Homo sapiens: one gene and its partners. The main gene of each other region encodes a partner of the protein of the gene in region 3 in a complex. Each region holds a gene or a part of one and is shown on either strand. Other genes may lie near its edges. The genes, in order: MED16, MED26, MED13, MED4, MED25, MED23 and MED31.

Region 1 (3,500 bases), on a different chromosome or scaffold from region 3:
GTGGGGCTGGGGCTGGTGGGCATTGACAACCAGGGGAACGTGAGCTGCTGGGGCACGTGGGGCTGGGCTTGGGGGGCATTGACAACCACGGGAAGGTGAGCTGCTGGGCATTGACAACCAGGGGAAGGCGAGCTGCTGGGGCGTGGCCCTGGTAGGCATTGACAACCAGGGAAAGGCGAGCTGCTGGGGCACGTGGGGCTGGGGCTGGTGGGCATTGACAACCAGGGGAAGGCGAGCTGCTGGGGCACGTGGGGCTGGGGTTGGTGGGCATTGACAACCAGGGAAAGGTGAGCTGCTGGGGCATGTGCGGCTGGGGCTGGTGGGCATTGACAACCAGGGGAAGGTGAGCTGCTGGGGCACGTGGGGCTGGGCTTGGTGGGCATTGACAACCATGGGAAGGTGAGCTGCTGGGCATTGACAACCAGAGGAAGGCGAGCTGCTGGGGCATGTGGGGCTCGGCTTGGTGGGCATTGACAACCATGGGAAGGTGAGCTGCTGGGCATTGACAACCAGGGGAAGGCGAGCTGCTGGGGCACGTGGGGCTGGGGCTGGGGCTGGGGCTGGGGGGTATTGACAACCAGGGGAAGGCGAGCTGCTGGGGCACGTGGGGCTGGGGCTGGGGCTGGTGGGCATTGACAACCGGGGGAAGGTGAGCTGCTGGGACATGTGGGGCTGGGGCTGGGGCTGGTGGGCATTGATAGCCAGGGGAAGGTGAGCTGCTGGGGCACGTGGAGCTGCGGCCGGGGCCGGGGCCGGGGCCGGGGCCGGGGCTGGTGGACATTGACAACCAGGGAAAGGTGAGCTGCTGGGGCACGTGGGGCTGGGGCTGGGGCTGGGGCTGGTGGGCATTGACAACCAGGGGAAGGGGAGCTGCTGGGGCACGTGGGGCTGGGGCTGGTGGGCATTGACAACCAGGGGAAGGGGAGCTGCTGGGGCACGTGGGGCTGGCCCTGGTGGGGATTGACAACCAGGGGAAGGCGAGCTGCTGGGGCACGTGGGGTTGGGGCTGTTGGGCATTGACAACCAGGGGAAGGTGAGCTGCTGGGGCACGTGGGGCTGGGGTTGTGGCTGGTGGGCGTTGACAACCACGGGAAGGTGAGCTGCTGGGGCATGTGGGGCTGGGGCTGGGGCTGGTGGGCATTGACAACCACGGGAAGGTGAGCTGCTGGGGCACGTGGGGCTGGGGCTGGTGGGCATTGACAGCCAGGGGAAGGTGAGCTGCTGGGGCACGTGGGGCCGGGGCCGGGGCCGGGGCTGGGGCTGGTGGACATTGACAACCAGGGAAAGGTGAGCTGCTGGGGCACGTGGGGCTGGGGCTGGGGCTGGGGCTGGTGGGCATTGACAACCACGGGAAGGTGAGCTGCTGGGGCACGTGGGGCTGGGGCTGGTGGGCATTGACAACCAGGGGAAGGCGAGCTGCTGGGGCCCGTGGGGCTGGGGCTGGGGCTGGGGCTGGTGGGCATTGACAACCAGGGGAAGGTGAGCTGCTGGGGCACGTGGGGCTGGGCTCGGTGGGCATTGACAACCACGGGAAGGTGAGCTGCTGAGCATTGACAACCAGGGGAAGGTGAGTTGCTGGGGCACGTGGCGCTGGGGCTGGGGCTGGGGGGCATTGACAGCCAGGGGAAGGCGAGCTGCTGGGGCACGTGGGGCTGGGGCTGGGGCTGGTGGGCGTTGACAACCACGGAAAGGTGAGCTGCTGGGGCACGTGGGGCTGGGGCTGGGGCTGGGGCTGGTGGGCATTGACAACCACGGGAAGGTGAGCTGCTGGGGCACGTGGGGCTGGGGCTGGTGGGCATTGACAACCAGGGGAAGGCGAGCTGCTGGGGCATGTGGGGCTGGGCTTGGTGGGCATTGACAACCACGGGAAGGCGAGCTGCTGGGGCACGTGGGGCTGGGGCTGGGGCTGGGGCTGGGGCTGGTGGGCATTGACAACCAGGGGAAGGTGAGCTGCTGGGGCACGTGGGGCAGGGGCTGGTGGGCATTGACAACCAGGGGAAGGCGAGCTGCTGGGGCACGTGGGTCTGGGGCTGGGGCTGGGGCTGGGAGGGTGCCAGAGGGAGGCGCCCCCGGGGGAAGGGACCACAGGTGCAAGCCCCTCGCCAGCCCCTGCCTGCGCTGCCTTGTCTGTGTGATGGGTTCGTCTTGTTGAGCGAGGTCAGTGGGGTGGCTCACAGCACGTATTAGGAGCTTCGTAACTAGGAGCTGTTGAGAGGACCGCCTTTCACGGGGTAGACTCCTCAGGTAAAGCAGACGAGTGTAAGCCTGGCTCGGCATCCAGTGCAGTCGGGGCTCAGGGAGGTTTCCTTCCCTGTTCCCAGAGGCATTGTGCATGACCCTGACAGAAAGGTACAGACGCTACAGACACATGCGCGCACACAGGCCCACACACGGGCGTGCGCGCACACAGATCCACACACGTGCCGCAGCCCCAGGGCCCCATTCCTCTCCCGGCTGAGGGCGCAGCCCCATCTCACCGGGCTCTCCTTGGGCTCTGTCTCTGGCAGCTGAGCGTGCTCCGCCTCTCACCTTCCATGGGCCACCCGCTGGAGGTGGGGCTGGCGCTGCGGCACCTGCTCTTCCTGCTGGAGTACTGCATGGTGACCGGCTACGACTGGTGGGACATCCTGCTGCACGTGCAGCCCAGTATGGTACAGAGCCTGGTGGAGAAGCTGCACGAGGAGTACACGCGCCAGACCGCTGCCCTGCAGCAGGTGGGGGCCCGTGGCAGGTGGGGCCCCGTGGCAGGTGGGGGCCCTGTGGCAGGTGGGGGCCCCGTGGCAGGTGGGGCCCCGTGGCAGGTGGGGGCCCCGTGGCAGGTGGTCCCGTGCCAGGTGGGGCTGTCCCTGTGGCAGGCAGGGGCCCCGTGGTCAGTAAAGTGCCAGCAGCAGGGAGGGAGTTCCCTTGGAGGGTGGAGGAGGTCTCTGCAGCAGTTGTAGAGGTCCCCACGGCAGATGTGGGGGTTGTGGCAGCTGGAGGGGTTTCCCTGCGGCAGGTTGGGGGCTCTATGGCAGGCGGAGGGCAAGAGGGGCAGGTAGCCTGTGGCAGGTGAGGCTGCGTGTGGGGTGTGCTCCCAGAGGCCCGTCCAGGAAAGCTGCACCTCAGAGAAGCAGTTTCCTTCCTTACCTGGGAAGTTTCTTCTGTAACACGTTAAGCCCCACAGGTAAGGCCTGATCCCCCCTGGACGGCTCCCCTCTCCAGTGTTCCCAGTCTGGAGGTATCTTTCTAAGCCATCCTCTCAGAATGTGATGGGTACCAGGATGCACACCCGGTGGCCCTGTGGTGTGAGGCCTCAGCAAACACGGTCAGAAGATGAACACACAGAGACCCGCCCGTCGGAAGGAGAGGAGGGAGCGGATACGGAGGCCCACGTGCCAGAAGGGTCCCTTGCAGTGGTGTGGTTATGTGCCTGCAATCCCAGAGTGTCCTCGAAGGACCTCAGATCTAACGAGCTCAGCCGGCAGCTGCACGTGGGACCAGCCCTCTGAGCTTCACTTGTT
Region 2 (3,500 bases), on a different chromosome or scaffold from region 3:
GGGCCTGGGTATGTCCACATAGCCATCTCACAGTGCCCCCAGACTGTGTTAAGTCAGCTCTGACAATAATCCACCACTTCCCTAAGCACATCACAGAACTCTCACCTTCCCCACCCTAGGCTTGCCTCCAAAAGCCACACAGAGCAAATCTAATCCAGAGGGTACAACAACACCCCAAATACTGAAAACCAGTGCCATGTAATGCTACCCCAAGGCCCTTCCCATTTTCTCAAGCCCAGACACCCCAACCATACCCACAGACACAGCTCGACATCTGCCTGTGCCCCATCCCACAGCAGAGAGGGAAAACTGTGCAATAATTTGCCGACTGTTCCTTCCAGCTCTGTTCCCCTCATGCCAGAGACAACGCAAGAAGAGCCTGCCTGCCTGACTACAGAACTTATTCTGAAAACCTGGATGATAGAATATACTTAAGAAAGCCATCTCATATTCTTAAGAATTCTCAACTGTTTTCAAATAAGGCACGGGGAGAACTGTTCCATTTGGACTTGAGACCTGCGGCACCATCAGGCCATCCCTGACTGCCGAGCCCACATGCCACGGCACCCCACCCAAGCTCGTTCATGACCATGCTCTATCTGCCCTCCTCCCTATGAGGCGCCAAGCCCCTTGGGCACAGGGGCTGAGCATCTTCAGGTCTGTACCCTCTACACCCAGCACACGAGCACTTGCTAATCAGTTAGTGACTGAAATGTAACTGCAGTGCCTCCCAAGGCATGGAATGTATTCAGAGAAGGCCTTTAAATACAGCATGTAGAATTATCGGTATGTCTTTCTTACTCAGGAAATGCTTCCCGGTTCAGGGAATCCCGATGGCAAATCCACACCCTGCTCTAAGAGTGAAAAGCGGCTGTTTTGGAAGGTGCTCCAAGCATGGGTGCTAGCGAGACCACACTGGAATGAAATGTGCTGCCTCTCCTTTACTCACTGTGCCACAAACTTGGCCACCCATTCTGACAACCAGCTCCTGGTCCCCAAAGGAACCAGGCAGACGTGGGACAGCCTACCACTAGGAATACAAAGGAAAAGCACAACGTGCAGTAACAAAGCACCCAGTTTCCAGAAGGAGATGATAGTGGGGAAGTGGCCAGGGGACCCCTCCCGCTGGACTGGAGTCACCTGGAGTCAGCCTGGTTAAACTAGAGCTCCATCTGAGAAGATGCTCGCAGACCCCAAAACCAAGAAAAGGAAAGCCAAGTGTCCTCCTTCACCTAAGAGACCTTGGCGCCCTTAAGCTACATGTCCTATCTTACACAGCTGCCCAGGGGCTGACGTGACCATGGTGCCTTTTTACATCTGTATCCAGAACAAAGCCCCTGACCACATGCTGGTCTTGGACAGTCCTCCAGGGCTCTGGGACCTCCAACCAGGACAACATATTCTGAGGACCACCCAGAAACCTCAGTGAGGAGAGACTGTAAAGTCCACTTTCTCCTGAGGGACAGAATGAGTCAAAGACAAGGACATACACCTGTGTCACAGGTGATACTTGCTACCTTTCCATTTCCCGAAGTCAGAGAACACCACGCTGCTCCTCTCCTGTGTCCTGGCCACAATATACAGAGTAAAGACAGGAGAGTCCCTGAATCTGGGCAATTGTGGATCAGGTGGCATTTACATGTTTGGGTTTAGGGTCCTCTACTATTTTGGATAGGGTCAGAATCAAGAGTCCTTCATTTTGCAATTTACACCATTCTGCTTTTCTGCAGAATAAATGGCATTTTAAGTTAATATCAAAAGTGCTGTAATGTTGAAGTAGAGAGCAAACTGGTCACACAGATTCATGAAAAGTTCCACATCGGTTGCTAGTTGCCACACCGTGGTCTGGCCCAGGTTTCTGTCTGTGACAGAGACCTTAAGATGTTCACGGGACAGGCTATGTCATATCACCACCCTGTTAGATGTAACATAGGTAAATCCAGCCCCAATCTGTAATCTCACATACACTTGTAGGGGACGTTACAGGATCCTCACACGTTTTCTTACCAGCTCAAAAATGCTGCCCCCTCGTGCCTCTTCCGGAGCCATCTCTCCAACTTTCAAGGCAGCGTGGTGGTGTTCAGAGTTGAAAGGACTCTAAGGACTGTCACTTAATGACTCTGGGTAAGTCCCTAACTTTGGTTCCACCACCTCCCATTAAGTCAGTAAGAAACAAAAGCATTTTATCCTCTGCTTGCCCCTGGAGACACCCACTGAGCAGCACCTATTACCTGATGCTGCTGGCTTCTGCACCTGCAAAAGGGGAGACTGGCTCCCCCACTCACAAGGCTGTTGGGGAGAAGCAGAACTCTCTGACAGGGTGCCACACAAACTAACAAAGCATACACCTTGGTTTAGAATTTTGTTAGTTGAGAAACTTCACACAATGTACCTTGCAAAGATATATTAAAAAAAAAAAACCCCTTCTAGAACAATTGACATTAGTCTCTGCTGTCCCTTCTAGGATCTGAACTTAGATCTGGAAGGAGCTTTATGGGGTGCATACACCAGTTCCCAATCCCACCCTGTGGACAAGAAATCTGCAGGCAAACCAAGGTAAGCAACATCCAACCTTCCAATTCTTAGGTGGGAAAATGATCTTTCTTGCTGTGTCTCTCTGCAGAGTGCCTCGGTCACCTCTCCCTTGGTCTCTGTTGCCTGAAGAGCTGTGAAAAAGAAAGCAGCTCCCAAGGACGTTTCCCGCTCAGAGCCTGGCAGCTGGAGGCACTGACACACGCGGCCAGGGCTAGTTCAAGTCCCTCTTTGCTGCGGGACCTTCTCAGGCCTCTCCCTGGTCTGAACACAGGGCATTCACCTGCAGCTAGCAAGCCCTGCCCTGTGCGGTTATTTTACTTGCCATGAGGATGCAGTACACCGTCTACTATTCGTCGGACCTTTCCTCTAAAAGCTAAGTTTGTTAATCATCACTTAACATCTGTGTTCCTCACAGTTCTACTGAGTAGCATCTCAAGCCACCTGTGATTCTTCCACTCTCCAAAGTTCTGCATTAGAATATTCCACGACTGAACTCTTGGGCATAAAGTGGTCACAAAGGCTTCTTGGTAAAATGGGGCTCAAATGTAGCTCCTCAGGCACAGGTCCAAGATGGATGCTAGGGTTCAGTCAGTTTAAGCAGCAGGTAGAAAGTGTGCCTAATGCTTCTGCTCTAGAGGGAGAAGACAAGACAGGAAACATCCCCAAGAAGCTTGCGTGCTGCACAGGAAGATAAAGCTCATACCTCCACAGAACGAGTGTCCCAGGCAGATGGGAACCGAATCACCTGCTGAGGAGACTGCTCACTATGACTGCTGTGCGAGAGTAAGACACAGTCCTTCACTTTACCCACAATGCAGTGAGAGTAAGCTGGAACAATCATGCACACACTGCGCTTCGGAGAGATTTTCAACACCCTGGGCTGAAAGGGTGCACGACGAAAAGAAAAGCTCCAACTGCTCTGAAAAACTGTTAGTAGCCTTTTCAAAAGGAGAGTAGAGGATTTA
Region 3 (3,500 bases):
ACTCAGGAGGCTGAGGCATGAGAATCACCTGAGCCCAAGAGATGGGAGTTGCAGTGAGCTGAGATCACACCACTGCACTCCACTGTGGGCGACATAGCGAGACTCTGACTCAAAAAAACAAAAAAAAAAACCTTTGCAATAGTAAAAGCTAAAGCACAATTTATAAATTTTCACATGAAATTCTGAAAATTTTATGGTTTTATTTTGTAAAATCTATTTTAGTTAAACTTGCAGTCAAATGATTTAAGAATATTTAATGTGAGGCCATGTGCGGTGGCTCATGCCTATAATCCCAGCACTTTGGGAGGTCGAGGCAGGTGGATCATCTGAGGTCAGGAGTTCAAGACCAGCCTGGCCAACATAGTGAAACCCCATCTCTACTAAAAATACAAAACTTAGCTGGGCGAGATGGCATGCACCTGTAGTCCCAGCTATCCGGGAGGCTGAGGCAGGAGAATCACTTGAACTGGGTGGCAGAGGCTGCAGTAAACCGAGATCACGCCACTGCACTCCAGCCTGGTGACAGAGCAAGACTCCATCTCAAAAAAAAAAAGAATATTGAATGTGGTTTAGAAAAGTAATCAGTATTAATCTTGAAGCATTTCTCCCTCATTATTCTAATGCTTTCAGAGGGGGTGGGCATCTTATGTCCCCAGTGCCCACAATTCTCATTAACACTAAATAGGAGCTATGCATAAAACAAACAAGTAGAGACCACCTGTTGAGGTTTTCTAAATCCAACGTATCTCTGAAGTATGTCCTCATCTATATGGCAAGCAACTAAGCAACCATTACACTAAAGTAATATAATTTCATATTTTGTTGCTGAGAAAAACGAGAGTAAGTCCTAATAACGCTCAATAAAGTCTGAAGGTTTTTGGTTTTGTTGGGAATCACTTAGAAACAAGAAGCCTACTGAGCCAAGTTTCTAATATCCTGACAATCTAATAACTGTAATAAAAGTACTTTCTACACGTTGTATTCAGATACGAAAAGTGAAATGGTACAACCAACCCACTCAAGGCATAGTGATATGCACTATTTACACTAATTGAAACAAGTTCTTGAATCTCAACACCAGCATTATAATAGGGAGGGGAAGGAGAAGGGAACATATGGCAAATCTTTACCTATCTCTTTTGAACTTAACCAGAGCCTAATAGAAAAAGTCTGCTTAATCTATATAACTATTTTCCTCCTCTAGCCAGGTGCAATGACTCATGCCTGTAATCCCAGCTACTTGGGAAGCTAAGACAGAAGGATCACTTGAAGCTAGGAGTTCAAGACTAGCCTGGCAATACAGGAAGACCCTGACTCCAAAAAACTTTTTTTAGTTAGTAGGGCATAGTGGCAATGCCTGTAGGCCCAGCTGCTGGGGAAGCTGAGGTGGGAGGATTGCTTGAGTCCAGGAGTCGGAGGCTGCAGTGAGCTATGATTAAGCACTGCAGGCTGAGTGAGACAAAGTGTGACCTCCATCCCTACAAAAAAAAGAAAAAAAAATTCCTTCTCTTGTAGCTCTATGTCCAGAGAAAATAAAGTTCAACTCTGCATTCTTAGTACTTTTCTGTTACTATTAGCATTACAGTTCTTAATCATCAGTGTTTCTTGAAATTTTTATGGACTATTTATTGGAAGAAAACACAAATGCTAAATTTGATTACCATATTTTTTTCCTGAAGATGCAGATTACAGTAGTGCCAAAGTATGTGATAAGTCATCAAAATAATTCTCTATCAATGGGGAAAAAAAATCACAACCAAAAAAGCAGACACACCCTGCACTCAACATTTTTCTCAAAAAAATGGCATCTTTAAATATCTCCACGGTGGTAAAAAATGAATCTTCTCCAATACAATTTTGCAAAACTATTAAAATGTAACATATGCTAATGAATAATGGCTCAAAAATTAACATGGTAGAAAATACCATGTATTTCCTGAAATAAAGAGAAATGTTTAAATGCTAGATCAGTGTTTCTCCTGAATAATCATTAATAACCTATACATTCAACAAATATACCGAGAGCCTTAAGTTGGCCGCATCATTATCTATGGCAAAACTTGAAAACTGATTTAAAAACAGCCTAGTATGTTATGTTTGGCTTGAAAACTTAGAAGATACACTTGATCAAAAAAACAGTATGCAGAAGAAATACAGCAAATGAAGTTGTCACCTAGGAGACTAGCCAATTTAAAGAGTCGGGCCACATCACAAGTAAATTTTACAATAGTAGAAATAAATTACTCTCTTTAGACTATGTGGGGCACACAACAATGTTTTAGTTTGGCTGGGACTAGATTCCTATGCCTGGCTGTTTATCTATCTGTCAATCCTATTAACAGCTGTCATTTAAGGTTAAAGTCCACTACAGTTAATATCCTTCAATTAAAACATCCAAAATTAAATTCAGAACAATAGTCCACTTAGTTTGAGCACTATTCATTATGATAAAATTCTGGTATAATAAAACTATCTGAACATGTTACTAAAATCTACTTTACAGACCTCAGGAGCCAGGAAAAAGAACAAATATTTTTAGCCCTGAGTTTTTTTAGTTCACAAGGTATCAGTTTTCTCAAAGAGTCTCATCACAGTCTAACTTGCTATGATTTTTTTAAGATGACAAATGGGAGAGGACGCAGTGTTTGCTTTTATTTTTATTTAAAGGGAAAGAATAAAAGCCAATGATGACAGCAATTGAATTCCAAAAATGTTAGAACACAGAATAAAAATACACAGAAAACTCTCCTTCAAGACCACATTAATGAAAATGATACAATCTTGCTCTGAAGCAAATTAACAGTACACTTAAAAGTACCAGTCCTACCCACCACAGAGATTCTTGACCAGAGGGACTGAGCTAAGATTTTCCCATCACCCATTTTATACCTCTTTCACCCACTATCACACAACCACTAAACAAAGCTACAAAATACAATTTTTAAAAAAAAGGGGCCAGGCATGGTGGCTCATGCCTGTAATCCCAGCACTTGGGGAGGCTGAGGCGGGCAGATCACCTGAGGCCAGGAGTTCCAGACCAGCCTGGCCAACATGGCGAAACTCCTATTAAAATCTCTACCAAAAATACAAAAATTAGCCAGGCGTGATGACACATGCCTGTAGTCCCAACTACTCGGGAGGCTGAGGCAGAAGGATCGCTTGAACCTGGGAGGCGGAGGTCGCAGTGAGCCAAGATCGCCCCACTACACTCCAGCCTGGGAGACAGAGCGAGACTTCATCTCAAAAAAAAAAAAAAAAAAAAAAGAAAGAAAGAAAGAAAAAAGCTGTAACCCCAAAGGAGTTTTATTCCCTAATCCTTTTTGTATCAAAACATATCGACCCCGATTCAACTAATCATTATCCTATAGAGGATAAAGCAAAAAGTAAGAAAATCATCTATGTTTGGCTTTGGAATTCAAGAGATTTTTTGAACAAATAACCTTCTGGAATGTTATAGTTTGGCTAATACTAGTTAGCACAAATCCTGATCCAAAAATCAT
Region 4 (3,500 bases), on a different chromosome or scaffold from region 3:
CCAAGTTACATTTAAAGTCTGTATTTCTGAAGCAAAGGGACAGAGCACATAAACAGGTATAGTTCAAGACTCAAATAAAGAAGGCAGATTTTTAAAGGGTCAAAAGAAAGAGTTATGGTATTAACTAGAAAGGTATGCCAGTTAGCCTCAAATCTACCCTTCTCTCTGGCCCCTGAAACCATTTCTCCTTTGCCAGCTGCCACAATTAAGTTTTGTCAGTAGAGGGCACAGGTGGGACTCCACTAGCAAACAAGTTTCACTTCCTGGATCAGGTGGTTTTGTCTCCTTTACTGCTGTGATGCCTGGTTGGTGTGCAGGACATTAAGTGGTGTTCACCACAGCAACTTTCGGTGGCGCCTCTAAAGGTGGTTTCCTAGCAGGTTTCACCAGAATCCCAAAGGGCAGCTTCCCAGCAAGTCTCCCTGGAACCCCAGTGGGTAATTTCCTGCTTGCCAGCTCTGGCCTCTGATGCCTCATCTAACTTCTCTGCCATGGAGTGGGCCACATTACACTGCACCCTCTCCAATGACAGCACCATGATATGAGAGTATCGGCCTTGGGATGGAGCTGGGGAAGACTGTTTTTAGGTCTGTCCCTTCCTTGGTCCAAAATGTGGCAGTGACTCCCCATATCTGTTTTTCCTGTACTTTTAAAACATGAGAAATATGAGGTGATATCCAAGGATATCACAGTTGAGTTCCCCTGGTTGTACTTTAGGTAGCTAACAAAAATGATGCATACAAAGCATTATTAATGACACAGGGACAGCCTTATGATGTAACATTAAGCAAAAAATGTATAGGGGAAAAAAGGAAACAGGCTAAAATATTTAAAGTGACTGCCTCAGAAAGGGTATATTTTTTTCCTTTTTTAAATGCCTTTTTCTACTTCCCAAATGTTCTACCACATCAAAACAAAAGTCACCTACAAACTATAAAAGATGAGGAATAATATAAAACAAATATATATAAAAATAGCACAAACCTATGAAAAACTTGAGGAAAACTGAAGCTCAGAATGAACTGGGTCTCACAGAAATACTATTTTATAAAGTTATAAAAGTTTATAAAAAGCTATTGTTATTCATTTTGTTAACTTGGGGGTTGTTCAGGAGTGTGTTCACTTTATTCCGTAAACTATCTTACTCTATTTACATAGCATGTTTCACAATTATAAAAAAGCTATGTTTAGAGCAATAATTTAAAAAGAGAGGCCAAATGCCTGAGGAAGACAGTGTAATATTTACAAATAAGAGAAAGGCAGCTTGTTCTAATTTCATACCTCCCTCAAGGAGAATCTTTAGAGCAGAATAAACCGGCAAAGAATCTAGCTATTACAATGAACTGGGTCTGAGAGGCAGGCACACTGGCTCACACCTGTAATTCCAGTACTTTGGGAGGCTGAGGCAGGTGATTGCTTGGGGTCAGGAGTTCGAGACCAGCCTGGCCAACAGAGCGAAACCCCATATCCACTAAAAATACAAAAATTAGCCAGGCCTGGTGGCACACACCTGTAATCCCAGCTACTCGGGAGGCTGAGGCACAAGAATCACTTGAACCTGGGAGCCAAGATTTCGCCAACACGCTCCAGCCTGGGTGACATAACAAGACTGTCTCAAATTTACAAAAAAAAAAAAATTGTGTCGGGAATCTCAAACTTGCTTTACCGCCAGATATTCCAACCTTGTCATCTCTGGAAAACCCTGATCTGTTTGAAAACACTCTTCGGCTTAACATTACCTGGCAATCTTCCTGCTGCAAGTGCATCTCCTGGTAAATGGCCATTCACGCCATTAGTGGAAGGATTGTTCATCTGACCCAGTAACCCACTTCTCATCTCTAAATCAGTTGGGTAGGGTCTCCGGGGGTCCCCTAAAACAATAAAGACTGCATTTAATTCAATCATATTTTAAAAAATAAGTGTTAATATGTTATTTGACATACTCATTTTCGCTGGTTCATGCTGAAAAGTTCAGGCTACATTTTCAATTTTGAAATACAGAAGTCATCTGGCCAGGTGCAGTGGCTCACGCCTGTAATCCCAGCACTTTAGGAGGACGAGGTGGGTGGATCACCTCAAGTCAGAAGTTCAAGACCAGCCTGGCCAGCATGGTGAAACCCCGTCTCTACTAAAAATAAGAAAATTAGTCAGGCGTGGTGGCACGCACCTATAATCCCAGCTACTCGGGAGGCTGAGGCAGGAGAATCGCTTGAACCCGGGAGGCAGAGGTTGCAGTGAGCTGAGATTGCACCACTGCACTCCAGCCTGGGCCACAGAGCAAGACCCTGTCTCAAAAAAAAAAAAAAAAAAAAAAGAAAGAAAGAAATATAAAAGTCACCTTATAAATTGTTATTAATAGCATATTACTTTTTAAAATACACGCATTTTAATTTCTTTTCTGAATCTTCCCAAGAATATACTATTTTCTACACTTTAAAAAAAAAGAGATGTCATTTTTTTGTAGACATTCCAGATGACAACTTAAGAAAATTATAATAATCTCAATTATTCAAACTTAACTGTATTTTCTAGCAAGAAAATGACAATGATTATGCTGCAAGGGAGAAAAAAATCATGACACTTATAAGACAGAAAGGACTGGAATGTTTAATAGAAGGACTGTCTCAATTTAAAATCTTTTTTTTTTTTTACATTTTTCATCTTTTTGTTTTACTTTTATTTTCCTCATGCCACCTTGTCTAAGATAAAACCTTTTTCTAACCAACCTCTTTGATCTTGTAATTCAGAAACTAATTCGTGTAAGTGGCAAAATAGCAGGAGCAGGTAATGTCCATCCCAAACATGAAAGCACACTAAATAGCAGTATGTGGTTGACAAAAACTTGACCAGATTTGGATTGACTTTTTGGGCACATCTCACCAACTGCAGCTTATCCATCCCCAAAATTATAGTCACCCTTAGTGCTTTCAGCATGGTAACACAGCACCTTCAGAAGTTATTTTGAAGTGGAGATAACTACTAATATTTCCCCTTCCTCCAATAAGGCTGCTACCTTACGTCTCCTGTTTTATGTTTCATCCACTGTCAATATAGTTGCAGCTTGATCCTCTCTTTTGCTGTCTAATTATCCCAGCTCTTTCCAAGCCTGTATGTTCACTGTTGGGTGCGTAGTGCTTTGTCTTTAGCATCTAAGAGAACTGGAATTGTCTTTCTCAGGCTGGAACCTTTGTGGAAATCCTAATGGCTCTAAAGAGTTTGCTTCTGGCCAGCCCTGATAAAATGGTATATAAATCCAAAGCTTTAGAAGCATCACATTATTATCTCGTACTTTAAAAAATTATCAATTTATTATTTCAAAAGACGAAAGAAACACAGTCCCTAGCAACAATGGCTTCACAGAAAACCAAATTTATAAAACCCATGGCCTATATCATTACTTATAAACCATTAAAGATGTGAAAATATGTGGCAGAGGTTTCTAAGGATAAATACATTTTAAATTAAATCTATGTCTGTACATAGTCACCTAAGAATCTTCA
Region 5 (3,941 bases), on a different chromosome or scaffold from region 3:
GTGAGACCCTCAGCCCAACCATCCAGCCAAGCCACTCTTGTGTCCTTGACTCACAGAAACTGCGTTAGATAATAAATGTTTGCAGTATGCAGCCATTATTTGGTGGTAATCTATTATACAGCTAAGAATAAGTAATACAATGAAATACTAATACAAGTACTATCCACATCCCCACTTCACAAGTGAGATACTAGGCACAGAGGGGACAGACTCCTGGGTCTGAGAGTTAGTTCTGTGCTGGAAGAGCCAGGATTTAACCCGTCTGCCTGACTCCAGACTCTACAATGTCAACTATCAAAATCCGATCCAGCGCCAGGCGTGGTGGTGAGGCAGGAAATTAAAGAAAAAAAATTAAAAAGAGAAATAAGTTCTATGTATTAGGCTGACTTGTCTGAGAGGCAGCAATGGGCACAGCCCAGACCCAGGAAAAGTCTTGATAATACTATCTAAAGTGCTCTTGGAGACTCTCCCAGCACTCCCTCAACATAGAGAGAAGAAAAAACAAATTTTCCTTTGTTTTATGGAATGAGTTTATAGATTCCTGTTCTCTGTAACTCATGACTTCAAGTATTCTGTTTTATCTAAGAAGTACAGCGAAGGTCATGAGAAGCCTGAGCTGCCTGGGCACCACAGTGAAGGTTATGGGATAAGCCCGTGCCTAGGCTAACCTAGATAAGGGACATCTGGGTTGCATAGCAACGGTTATGTGCAATCCTGAGTTATAAACCTGTTACAACAATTTGATTAACTGTTTTTGTTCTGCCTCTGTATCCCTGCTGTCACGCCACTGTAAGCTTGCTTCAAGCTAGCCCACCCCCTTTTGTGAAGTGTGTATAAAAGTCAAGTGCTACCTTTGTTCTGGGCCGTCTTTGGACGTGAGTCGGCTTGGGCCTGAGTGCACTCAATGAAAGATTCTCCTGCTTTAACCCGAGGGCTCTCTCCTGTCGTCCTGAATCCCGCAACAGTGGCTCACCCCTATAATCCCAGCACTTTGGGAGGCTGAGGCAGGCAGATCACATGAGGTCAGGAGTTTGAGACCAGCCTGGCCAACACAGTGAAACTGTCTCTACTAAAAATACAAAAAAAAAAAAAAAAATTAGCTGGGCATAGTGGCGTGTGCCTGTAATCCCAGCTACTTGGGAGGCTGAGGCAGAAGAATCGCTTCAACCCAGGAGGTACAGGTTGCAGTGAGCCACGACTGTGCCACTGCACTACAAGCCTGGGAGACAGAGCAAGACACTGTTTCAAAAAAAAAAAAAAAAATTCTGACCCAAGCCACAGAGGGATCTATCCTGGCTCTGACCCATCCCCCTGCACTGAGGCTACAATGTACCCATCTGGAAAAGGAGGACAGGGGTAGACGGAAAAAGAGAGGACAGAAAGGGGACAATCACACAGGGAGTACAAGGTGGCTGCTGGAGCTCAGCCAGGCCTCCCTGAATGGGAAGGTTTTTCCTACTTCTAAACTGATGGCAACATTGCTGAGCACACAGAAGCCACCACAAAAGTGACTTCTGACAAAAACACAATCACCCTCAAAGTCCTTTCAATCCCTTAATGTATGAGATGTTTCCTGCAGCTCAAACCCAAGCCATCGCTCATTCACGGCCCCTCGCAGGGACCCCAACCACCCCAAGCCATTACTTATTCACAGCCCCTCACGGGGACACCAACCACCCCAAGCCATCACTTATTCACAGCCTCTCACGGGGACACCAACCACCCCAAGCCATCACTCATTCACGGCCCCTCACAGGGACCAGCAACCCACCCCAAGTGGGGGAAAGCTCACTTAATGCCATCGAGCCAGGTGACAAACTCATAGGCGCTGCTGGTGGGAGCGTGACATTGTACGTAGGACTCGGGAGCGCAGTCCACTGTGTTGAACACCACGAGGCTGTACTGGGTCCCCCCATACTGGGAGGGGAGGACAGAAAACTTTTAATCTGGGACCTCAATTCCCTTTTCCCTTAGAGAAGGAATCAGGGCTCCCAGCTTCCCGTTCCTCCAGAACCAGGAACTCCTCAGCTTCCTCCTTCCTCAGACCCAGCAATCTCGGCCCCAGCCCCTTCTCCCTCAGACCCAGGAATCCAGGCCCCCGGCCCCTCCTCCCTCAGACCCAGGAGCCCAGGCCCCAGCACCTCCTCCCTCAGACCCAGGAATCCAGGCCTCAGCTCCTCCTTTCTCAGACCCAGCAGTCCAGACGCCCAGCCCTTCCTCCCTCAGACCCAGGGATCTGGGCCCCTAGCTCCCTCCTCCCTCGGACCCAGGAATCCGGGCCCCAGCGCCTCCACCCTCAGACCCAGGAGTCCAGGCCCCCAGGCCCTCCTCCCTCAGAACAAGGAGTCCAGACCCCCAGCCCCTCCTCCCTCAAACTCAGGAGTCCAGGCCCAGCCCTTTCTCCCTCCCTCAGACCCAGGAGTCCAGGCCCCCGGCCCCTCCTCCCTCAGGCCCAGGAGTCCCTAGACTCACGTCTCCCCCGAAGTCCGTCTCAGCAGGAGGACCACCATTAAAATACCTGTGAGGGTAGGAAGTGAAAGGTCGGAGTCAGGCAAGAAACTGTGCGAAACTGAAGTGGGAGGGCGGGGTTAGAGTCGCGGAAACAGCACTCACTCGATGGCCGGGAGCAGGTAGTGCTTGCGGAGCCCCTCGAAGTAGGGTCCCAGGTTGGCCGTACCCTCAATCACAAACACCACGTCGGCCACCACGCTCCCGGCGCGGGCCGGGCCCTCGGACCCGGGGACCATACCCCGTGCGGTACCCGCCACCACCACTGCAGCCGCAGCCGACGCCGCGGAATGAGCAGAAATGCGCCTGCGCCGCGCGCGCGCTCGCGTCGGGCGGTTTAGGGCTGCTGGGAATGCTGCCATGTTTGTGCGGGGCACGCGCTGAGGCTTCGTTCTAGCTCCATCCTCCTTCGCCCCCACCGCGTGGAAGACTCAGAAAGGGCATAGTTAGCCCTTCTAGGGGCCTGATGGGTTAGACGGAATTATTGTCAAAAGCTAAATAAATTGAAAGCGGCTCAGTCAGCCGCCATCTTTGAGCGGGGCGTCCAGGTCCGCCTCTTGTCTCAAAGGGAGGGGCAGGAGACCTGGTTGCTATGCAACGCGTACGCTGCCCTTGTTTTCGTTTTTGTGTTTTGTTTTTTGTTTGTTTGTTTTTTCGAAACGGGAGTCTCGCCCTGTCGCCCAGGCTGGAGTGCAGTGGCGCGATCTCGGCTCACTACAACCTCCGCTTCCCGGGTTCAAGCGATTCTCCTGCCTCAGCCTCCCGAGTAGCTGGGATTACAGGTGCCCGCAACCACGCCCCGCTAATTTTTGTATTTTTAGTAGAGAAAGAGTTTCACCCTGTGGGCCAGGCTGTTCTCGAACTCCTGACCTCAAGTGATTCGCCCGCCTTGGCTTCCCAAAGTGCTGAGATTACAGGCGTGAGCCACCGCGCCGGGCCCGCTGCCCTTGTTTTGTAACCGTTAGATTAAGTTTCTGGTTCTGTTCTTTCGGGCGTGGGGACTAGGGGAGGGACGCGAGAAGGATCCAATCACATCGGCGGAAACGAGGTTACTAGGCGACGCTTTAAGGTCGTCCTCAACTTGGAAGGGAGGGCAGTTGTTTTCCCCCCCGAAAAGAAGCCGAACACCAAACCAAGTGCGGGTTGCTAAGCAACACCTGAGCGTTGTTTTCTGGGAGAGGAGCCAGAAACTGGCTTAGAACGTAAATACATTCCAGGTGGATTAAAAATGTAAGTGCAACAAATGAAACCCGAAAACTATCTGAAGGGAAAAAATCTTAATGACTGCCATGGAGTTTCTTAGCACTACAGCAAAGTTAGAAAACGTAGTCTTCATTAATTTTTCCCAAAAGACTGTATAAACCAAGTTGAAAAATATACGGCCAACTGGGAAAATCTTTCTAGCGTGTTTGTTGACAGAAATGTACTACGCA
Region 6 (3,500 bases), on a different chromosome or scaffold from region 3:
TTTAAAATAGAAGTGATTTTTTTTTGGTAGAAGAAATAGAGCATCTCACAAAATACCGTAAGTATTAAAAGCACAGACCTAAACAAAGCTAGACTTTTTTGAGGTTATGATCACGAATTTCAGACATGTCTAAATTACCTCTCTTGCTGCCAGAAGCTGCTGTACAACAGCAGAGCTCACTGTATTAGGAATTGTCAAAATCTTCTCCAAAATCACTTTTAAGAGATCTCGAACACCCTGATATAAGAAAAAAGACATGGGTTAAAATTAAGTAGTGTCTACTGTGTTAGCTAAAACGTCCGAAGGTTTCAGGGTGATATATTCCTTCAAGGTCACACCTTTAAATTTTCTGAATCAGTTACAATCTAAGTCCCTAACATTAACCCAACAGAAGAGTCATGTTCCAAAACAGAGTTCTAAAGACTGTCTTAAAATACAATGAGCAAAGAAAGTCATTATACAGTTTGTCAAGCTTTTTTGGCCCTCATAACATTAGAAGGGTTTACGTTGTTACAAGGGTCAAAAACCTTAATTATACATATAGACAGAAATATATTGTAACAAGACTTCAATGCACTCTGAAAACTTGAGTAACAATATCAAACTTTTTGGTAGAGGACTGTTTCTGCTCACTCCCTTTTGTGCTGGGATTATAGGTGTAAGCCACTGTGACTGGCCTATTCTCCCTTCTCATCCATCACATACCTTAATCTCTCAAGGATATCCAAGGCTATTCTGTTAATCATTTCCACATATCCAATACCAGTTACATTATCTGATATATAAAGAAGAAATTTCATTCAACATTTATTTATTGACTATGAACTACGTAACCAAGCTTGTAAAAGACAGAACATATACCTAAAAGAACAATTATGAAGTATCATACAAATAAGAAAATTGCATAAGTCTGAGTAAAGAGAAAATAATTAGCAAAAGCTTCTTAGAGTTAACTGTGTGATAAATCATGATTTAAACTAATAATTATCTGTTAGGTCATTACCTGTTAAATCATTTCAGATTAGAGAAAATGCAGAAATAAAGCACAGGGTCAGACACTGGTAATTCCCGGGAAAAGGACAATAACAAAAGTCTCCTGAAGATGCAGAATGGCTTTTGTAGCTATGGAGTCCCTAAGCCGTTTTATGAGACAAAACTAGAAAGTGTATGTTGTTTTTGGTCAAGAGCCCAAAGTGCTGAAGATATTAATTGAGGTAAGACCCACGTTCAAGAGAAGTGAAGCCAGGTCTTGCTCCCTTCATCAGTGATGCCTACATCCCTTCTCAGTTCCACACACCCCTGCTCTGTGCTTTCATTTGAAGGGATCATAATACTTGCAGCATGAAGGAACACGGATTCTGCTTTGTGACTTCCCTGCTCTTCATAAAAATGTATCAGCTACCTGTATTTATAAGAATGTTGGGAGGGGAGTAGCGGAGCCAGGGAAACAACTGAGTAACTTTAAATCTTTTCAGGAAATATACCACAAGAAATAGACAGATTTTGTAAATGCTTCCACATCATTTCTCTCACCTGAAAATAAGACATGCACACCGAAAAATCAATCATATCTGAAAGCAATCACTTTTTATAATAAGAAAAATATACCTTGTAATCCACTCCCCCAATTATTTTCCGAACCAGTTTAAATGTTAAGGCCCAAAGCTGTGTTCTTTCCCACTCAAGAGTGTCAGAGTTTATCAGGGATTCACAAACCAGCCTATAAAAAAAGAAATAGCCATTCCAGTTACAAGACAGAATTTTCCAAGTTCTCTAATAGCCGCCAATATGGTTTGGCTGTGTACTCACACAAATCTCATCTTGAATTGTAGTTCCCATAATCCCCACGTGTCATGAGAAAAACCATTTAAATCATGAGGGACAGTTCCCCCAATACTGTTCTCATGATAGTGAGTTAGTTCTCACAAGATCTAATGGTTTTATATGGGGATTCCCCCTTCACTGGGCACTCATTCTCTCTCCCACCACCCTGTGATGAGGTGCCTTTTGCCATTATTCTAAGTTTCCTGAGGCCTCCCTAGCCATGCCAAACTGTGAGTCAATTAAACCTCTTTCCTTTATAAGTTACCCAGTCTCGGGTATATCTTTGTTAGCAGCATCAGACAGACTAATACAGCCATAGTCTGTGCACTGTATTATATTTATCCTCACAAGTGTCTTTCATAAAAGTGATTACTAAGCACACTTATAAATCTGTGTAGTATTTTACATTTTTTACTTGTATGAAAGATCAAAAACAAAGTAAGAATGAAATAATATTCATTATGTTATATTTTACTAGAAAGAAGTCTATCTAAAGCTTTCGGTTAGATGTTTACCATCTATCACCTTGTGGTACACTGGATTTTTCCAACAGGATGGCAACAAGATTTTTGATCCCACATCTTCTTCTGAAATGTGACACTGACATTTCTCCCAAGGAGAGGTAGGGGGAAAGTCTACGTTCTCACTCCTTAGATCTGGGCAGACCTAAGACTATGGCCAAAAGGATGCAGTATGACTTCCAAGAAGACAAGGTGATACAATTTCTGCCTAGCCCTCTTTTGCACACTTGCTGTTAGGCTCCACCATGAGGTGAGAAAGTCTAGGCCACAAGGTGAGGGCCTGCGGAGGTTCTGGCTAATAATCCCAGCTGAGGTTCCAGATGACAGCCAGGAATCAACCACCAGATATCTGAGTGGGGAAGCTTTTGCCATGCTCCAGCCCTAGCCACATTGATCACAATCATTATGACCTTGAGTAAAAAGTGTCTCCTAAGCCGAGTCAACCACTAAAACCATGAATAATTTTAAAACCTGAGTATTACTGTTTTAAGCCATAAGGTGTTGAGGTTGTGCAGCAAAAGTAAAGGGTTACAAACTAATTAAAGTGATTAATTTCAGCCCCTGGGCAGAAACATCTGGTTTTGAGCCCACAAGCATTACCTAATTCAAAGACTATTACTCCTAGAAACTAAAACCTGAGGTATTATATAAAGGATTACTTGATAAACCTCACCTTCTTCTTCATTCTCTTACCTTTTTACAACAACAACCTCAACCAATTTCCAATCACATATAGAAAAGAAAATTCTTCAGATTGCTCATACCCATTAAACGTACCTGGGTGGAAGGAGACCAGTCTCAACTGCCATTGCTAAGCAGTCATAAAGAAAAGAAATTCTTTTAGGACTATGCTGACCATGAATAAACTTAACAATCCACTGGATACACTGTTCATGAGACTCCTGGAAAATGAGAGAATGATTTTACTTGGGGTCTAAAGTTACATTTTTATAACCAATAGCTAATACTACAACTGGAAGTATACCAATACTATGAAAGAAATACTTCACTATGAGCATCTGTGGATGAAAATAATTTTTAAAAAAAGCAAAATTAAAAAATTCAGATTTAGTATTTGTCACATTAAGCTTAACATTTTGTAATTACATAGATAAAATGCTACCATTTTTATTACATGGGAACTTCAAAAGTAGT
Region 7 (2,898 bases), about 55 Mb from region 3:
AAACTTGTTATAACTAGATGATAGTTTCTGAATTGCGTAATTTCTGTGTTCAAAGATGAGTGTCATTCAAGGCAGAACTCATTCCACTCCTAATAACGTTTTATAGAAGTAGTGAAGATTTGACTGTTTTTCTCTTACAGCCTCAAAAACTGGTAGAATCTGAGTGTCTTCAGGCCAACCTGGTGGAAATGTTGTTCTCTGAAGATTAAGATTTTAGGATGGCAATCATGTCTTGATGTCCTGATTTGTTCTAGTATCAATAAACTGTATACTTGCTTTGAATTCATGTTAGCAATAAATGATGTTAAAAAAACTGGCATGTGTCTAAACAATAGAGTGCTATTAAAATGCCCATGAACCTTTAGTTTGCCTGTAATACATGGATATTTTTAAGATATAAAGAAGTCTTCAGAAATAGCAGTAAAGGCTCAAAGGAACGTATTCTTGAAGGTGACGGAAATACCTAAAAACTCCTAAAGGTGCAGAGCACACCTTCCAAATCTCTCAAAAGATCAGTATCTTTTATTTTAAGTTATCTCCATCTGCAAAGCAACTGATGATATTCCTGAAACCCCTTCTTTGATTTTGGAATGTAGAACCTAACCTCACCACTGAAGGAAAGCACATGACCTCTAATCTAGCCTCTGCTTAATTCAGGCAGTTTTGTTTTGTTTAATAAAAAACAGACTCCTGAGCACTAGAAGCAGTTTGTTTTGCAGCTGTCTCAATGTGCTTTACTTGGGATGAGGCAGGTGGCGGAGAGCGGCCGGAAAGACTCTATAACCCAGTTCTGGGAAGAACTCCAAGCTGGGAGTCAGTCACACTGACTCTACCACTTACTAGCTGTGTAACCACAGGCAAGTTACTCACCCCGTCCAAACCTCAGTTTTCTCTTCTATAAACAAGGTTCTTAGAATAAAATGAGAATTCAAGGAAGCACTTAACATAGCACCTGGTTTGTGGTACCTCCCAAATCAATGGTAGCTTTCCCAAATGAACACAAGTATTTGAGGCTCCTCATGTTTGTTCTAAAGTCAAGAGTCCAGTTAGTAACTAACCACTAGTTGTCCTGCCATGACTAGGTCAAGTGAGGCCACAGTGATTCAGTGATTCTTAAAGCCACCTTGCAAAGCAGGTAATACAGTTATTTCCTGTCCTGCAGAATTCAAGAACCTTTATGCAGTTCCTGTCCTATGATTTAAAGAGGTCAGTGACTCCGCTACTCTCACTACATCTTAGAGTAGAGTGGTAGAGTAGTTGATCTGAGACAGTAAGGTTCCAGGAGATGGTCTTGCCCTACTATATGTCAGGAACAGCTAGCCTTAGAATTCAGTATACTTGGTGGCCCACCCCTACCCCATGCCCCAGTGCCTTATTTGGTCTAAAGCACCTAACTTTTCCATTCTTAATCAGCTGATTATGCTAAATGCGTAAAAAAGAAAAACACCTTACAAATCCACAGGGAAATCAAAGAACAATTCAGGTTTAACAGAAATAGTCTATTAACAATAAAAAGTTGGATGAAAAAGCACACTAAAGGTTCTAGGGGCTACCATAATAAAGGTAGATAGGAAGAGTTTTCATTTTTTTTGTCTTCACTGTACAAAAGAAATACATTATATACATGTATTAAGTGCCTCGTTTGTATCCAGTTTTTCATTTTCCCGATGTGTTATTTTGCTGTTGCTGCTCTGCCAAGGCTTGCTGAAGGCGCATCCGCTTCCGGGAATAGTGCTGCCAATGTAGAATCTGCTGTTCATCAATAAATTTCGCACACTGAGCATTCACCAGCTCCTTTCGGAAGTGTTCATATTGGAGCAGCTCTAACATGTGTAAACACTGAGGGTACCTGGGTTTAAGTTTGTAAGTGAATGAACAACATAATTTAGGTAAATAATGCCAAGGTATAATTCAGTTATTCTCTTAAAAACGATCTTGTAGCCTACCATTTCTATAACAGTAACTTAGTACACTCTGGTAGCATAGGGTTTTTTCCCCGATTAGTCATCAAAGGTCAGTGTTCAATATTTTCGAAAATGAGAAGGTTTAAGTTCAGAAAGATTAAATTAACTTGCTCAAGACCACACAACACAGTAACTGGTAAGCAGAGTGAAAATTTAGGGACAAACCATGCTATTCCCTTCTAGCGGTTTCCAACGTGAAGAACATGAACATATTTTAGTAATTATGTGTTTAATTGATAGTTACTCATTTTTCCTTCAATAGGGATAAAAAGACAACTTTCATTTAAAAGTGAGTGTGAAAGAGGACTATGCGCATACATTGTACTCTTGTTGTCCACAGGGATATACCAATTCTGAAATTAGATATACTCTAGGATTGGACAAGCAAATATACTGTGGATAAGGACAGCCAAATTTCTGGCTATCAGAAAAGGAGTTATAGACATGGAAAGGAAAAAGGCTAGAATGAACCCTGTGTTACTGAGCTGGTATTGAAAACATCAGTATGTACTTACGGCTTTTAATATAGACATAGAATAAACATGTATATGTGTGTGCATGTATACACATACATACATATATATATAGTTCTTGAGCTTTGTGTACTGACAGGGCCTAGAAGCAATGACACTGTGGTACTAATGAACACACAATGACCAGACTGTGGTTTCCAAGGAGCAGGTTTCCTTGGAGAAAAGGGTGATTCAGGGATAAGACAGGAAAAGTACAAGATGAGCCTGGAACATTACGTAGTGCCAGAAGAAAAAGTGCTAAAAATTCCTGGGAGGATCAAAAGTATTCAGGAGCCAACTTGAAGGGCCTCCCAATGGCCAAATCTGGAATACTTAGCGCAAGAAAATACATAATTCTAATTCATAATTCTACTAAAAATAAGAATCCAAAAGTCCACACTAAATGGATGTAAATTTCTTTA

The links.
Region 1: MED13 (region 3) and MED16 share a complex: the UniProt entries of both Homo sapiens proteins name them as parts of the mediator complex.
Region 2: MED13 (region 3) and MED26 share a complex: the UniProt entries of both Homo sapiens proteins name them as parts of the mediator complex.
Region 4: MED13 (region 3) and MED4 share a complex: the UniProt entries of both Homo sapiens proteins name them as parts of the mediator complex.
Region 5: MED13 (region 3) and MED25 share a complex: the UniProt entries of both Homo sapiens proteins name them as parts of the mediator complex.
Region 6: MED13 (region 3) and MED23 share a complex: the UniProt entries of both Homo sapiens proteins name them as parts of the mediator complex.
Region 7: MED13 (region 3) and MED31 share a complex: the UniProt entries of both Homo sapiens proteins name them as parts of the mediator complex.

Annotation. Positions count from the first base shown.
Region 1 is NC_000019.10:876,188-879,687, reverse strand, and holds part of MED16 (mediator of RNA polymerase II transcription subunit 16), read left to right. Parts: intron 1-2,507; coding exon 2,508-2,714; intron 2,715-3,500. UniProt on the Homo sapiens protein: Component of the Mediator complex, a coactivator involved in the regulated transcription of nearly all RNA polymerase II-dependent genes.
Region 2 is NC_000019.10:16,621,705-16,625,204, forward strand, and holds part of MED26 (mediator of RNA polymerase II transcription subunit 26), read right to left. Parts: intron 1-3,500. UniProt on the Homo sapiens protein: Component of the Mediator complex, a coactivator involved in the regulated transcription of nearly all RNA polymerase II-dependent genes.
Region 3 is NC_000017.11:62,055,279-62,058,778, forward strand, and holds part of MED13 (mediator of RNA polymerase II transcription subunit 13), read right to left. Parts: intron 1-3,500. UniProt on the Homo sapiens protein: Component of the Mediator complex, a coactivator involved in the regulated transcription of nearly all RNA polymerase II-dependent genes.
Region 4 is NC_000013.11:48,078,105-48,081,604, forward strand, and holds part of MED4 (mediator of RNA polymerase II transcription subunit 4), read right to left. Parts: intron 1,890-3,500; exon of another isoform or gene 1,872-1,889; coding exon 1,740-1,871; exon of another isoform or gene 1,673-1,739; intron 1-1,672. UniProt on the Homo sapiens protein: Component of the Mediator complex, a coactivator involved in the regulated transcription of nearly all RNA polymerase II-dependent genes.
Region 5 is NC_000019.10:49,817,148-49,821,088, reverse strand, and holds the start of MED25 (mediator of RNA polymerase II transcription subunit 25), read right to left. Parts: upstream 2,801-3,941; 5' UTR 2,748-2,800; coding exon 2,614-2,747; intron 2,519-2,613; coding exon 2,473-2,518; intron 1,918-2,472; coding exon 1,793-1,917; intron 1-1,792. UniProt on the Homo sapiens protein: Component of the Mediator complex, a coactivator involved in the regulated transcription of nearly all RNA polymerase II-dependent genes.
Region 6 is NC_000006.12:131,621,743-131,625,242, forward strand, and holds part of MED23 (mediator of RNA polymerase II transcription subunit 23), read right to left. Parts: intron 3,248-3,500; coding exon 3,123-3,247; intron 1,721-3,122; coding exon 1,609-1,720; intron 238-1,608; coding exon 139-237; intron 1-138. UniProt on the Homo sapiens protein: Required for transcriptional activation subsequent to the assembly of the pre-initiation complex. Component of the Mediator complex, a coactivator involved in the regulated transcription of nearly all RNA polymerase II-dependent genes.
Region 7 is NC_000017.11:6,642,811-6,645,708, forward strand, and holds the end of MED31 (mediator of RNA polymerase II transcription subunit 31), read right to left. Parts: intron 1,850-2,898; coding exon 1,657-1,849; 3' UTR 501-1,656; downstream 1-500. Other genes in the region: TXNDC17 (thioredoxin domain-containing protein 17), read left to right, coding at 141-209. UniProt on the Homo sapiens protein: Component of the Mediator complex, a coactivator involved in the regulated transcription of nearly all RNA polymerase II-dependent genes.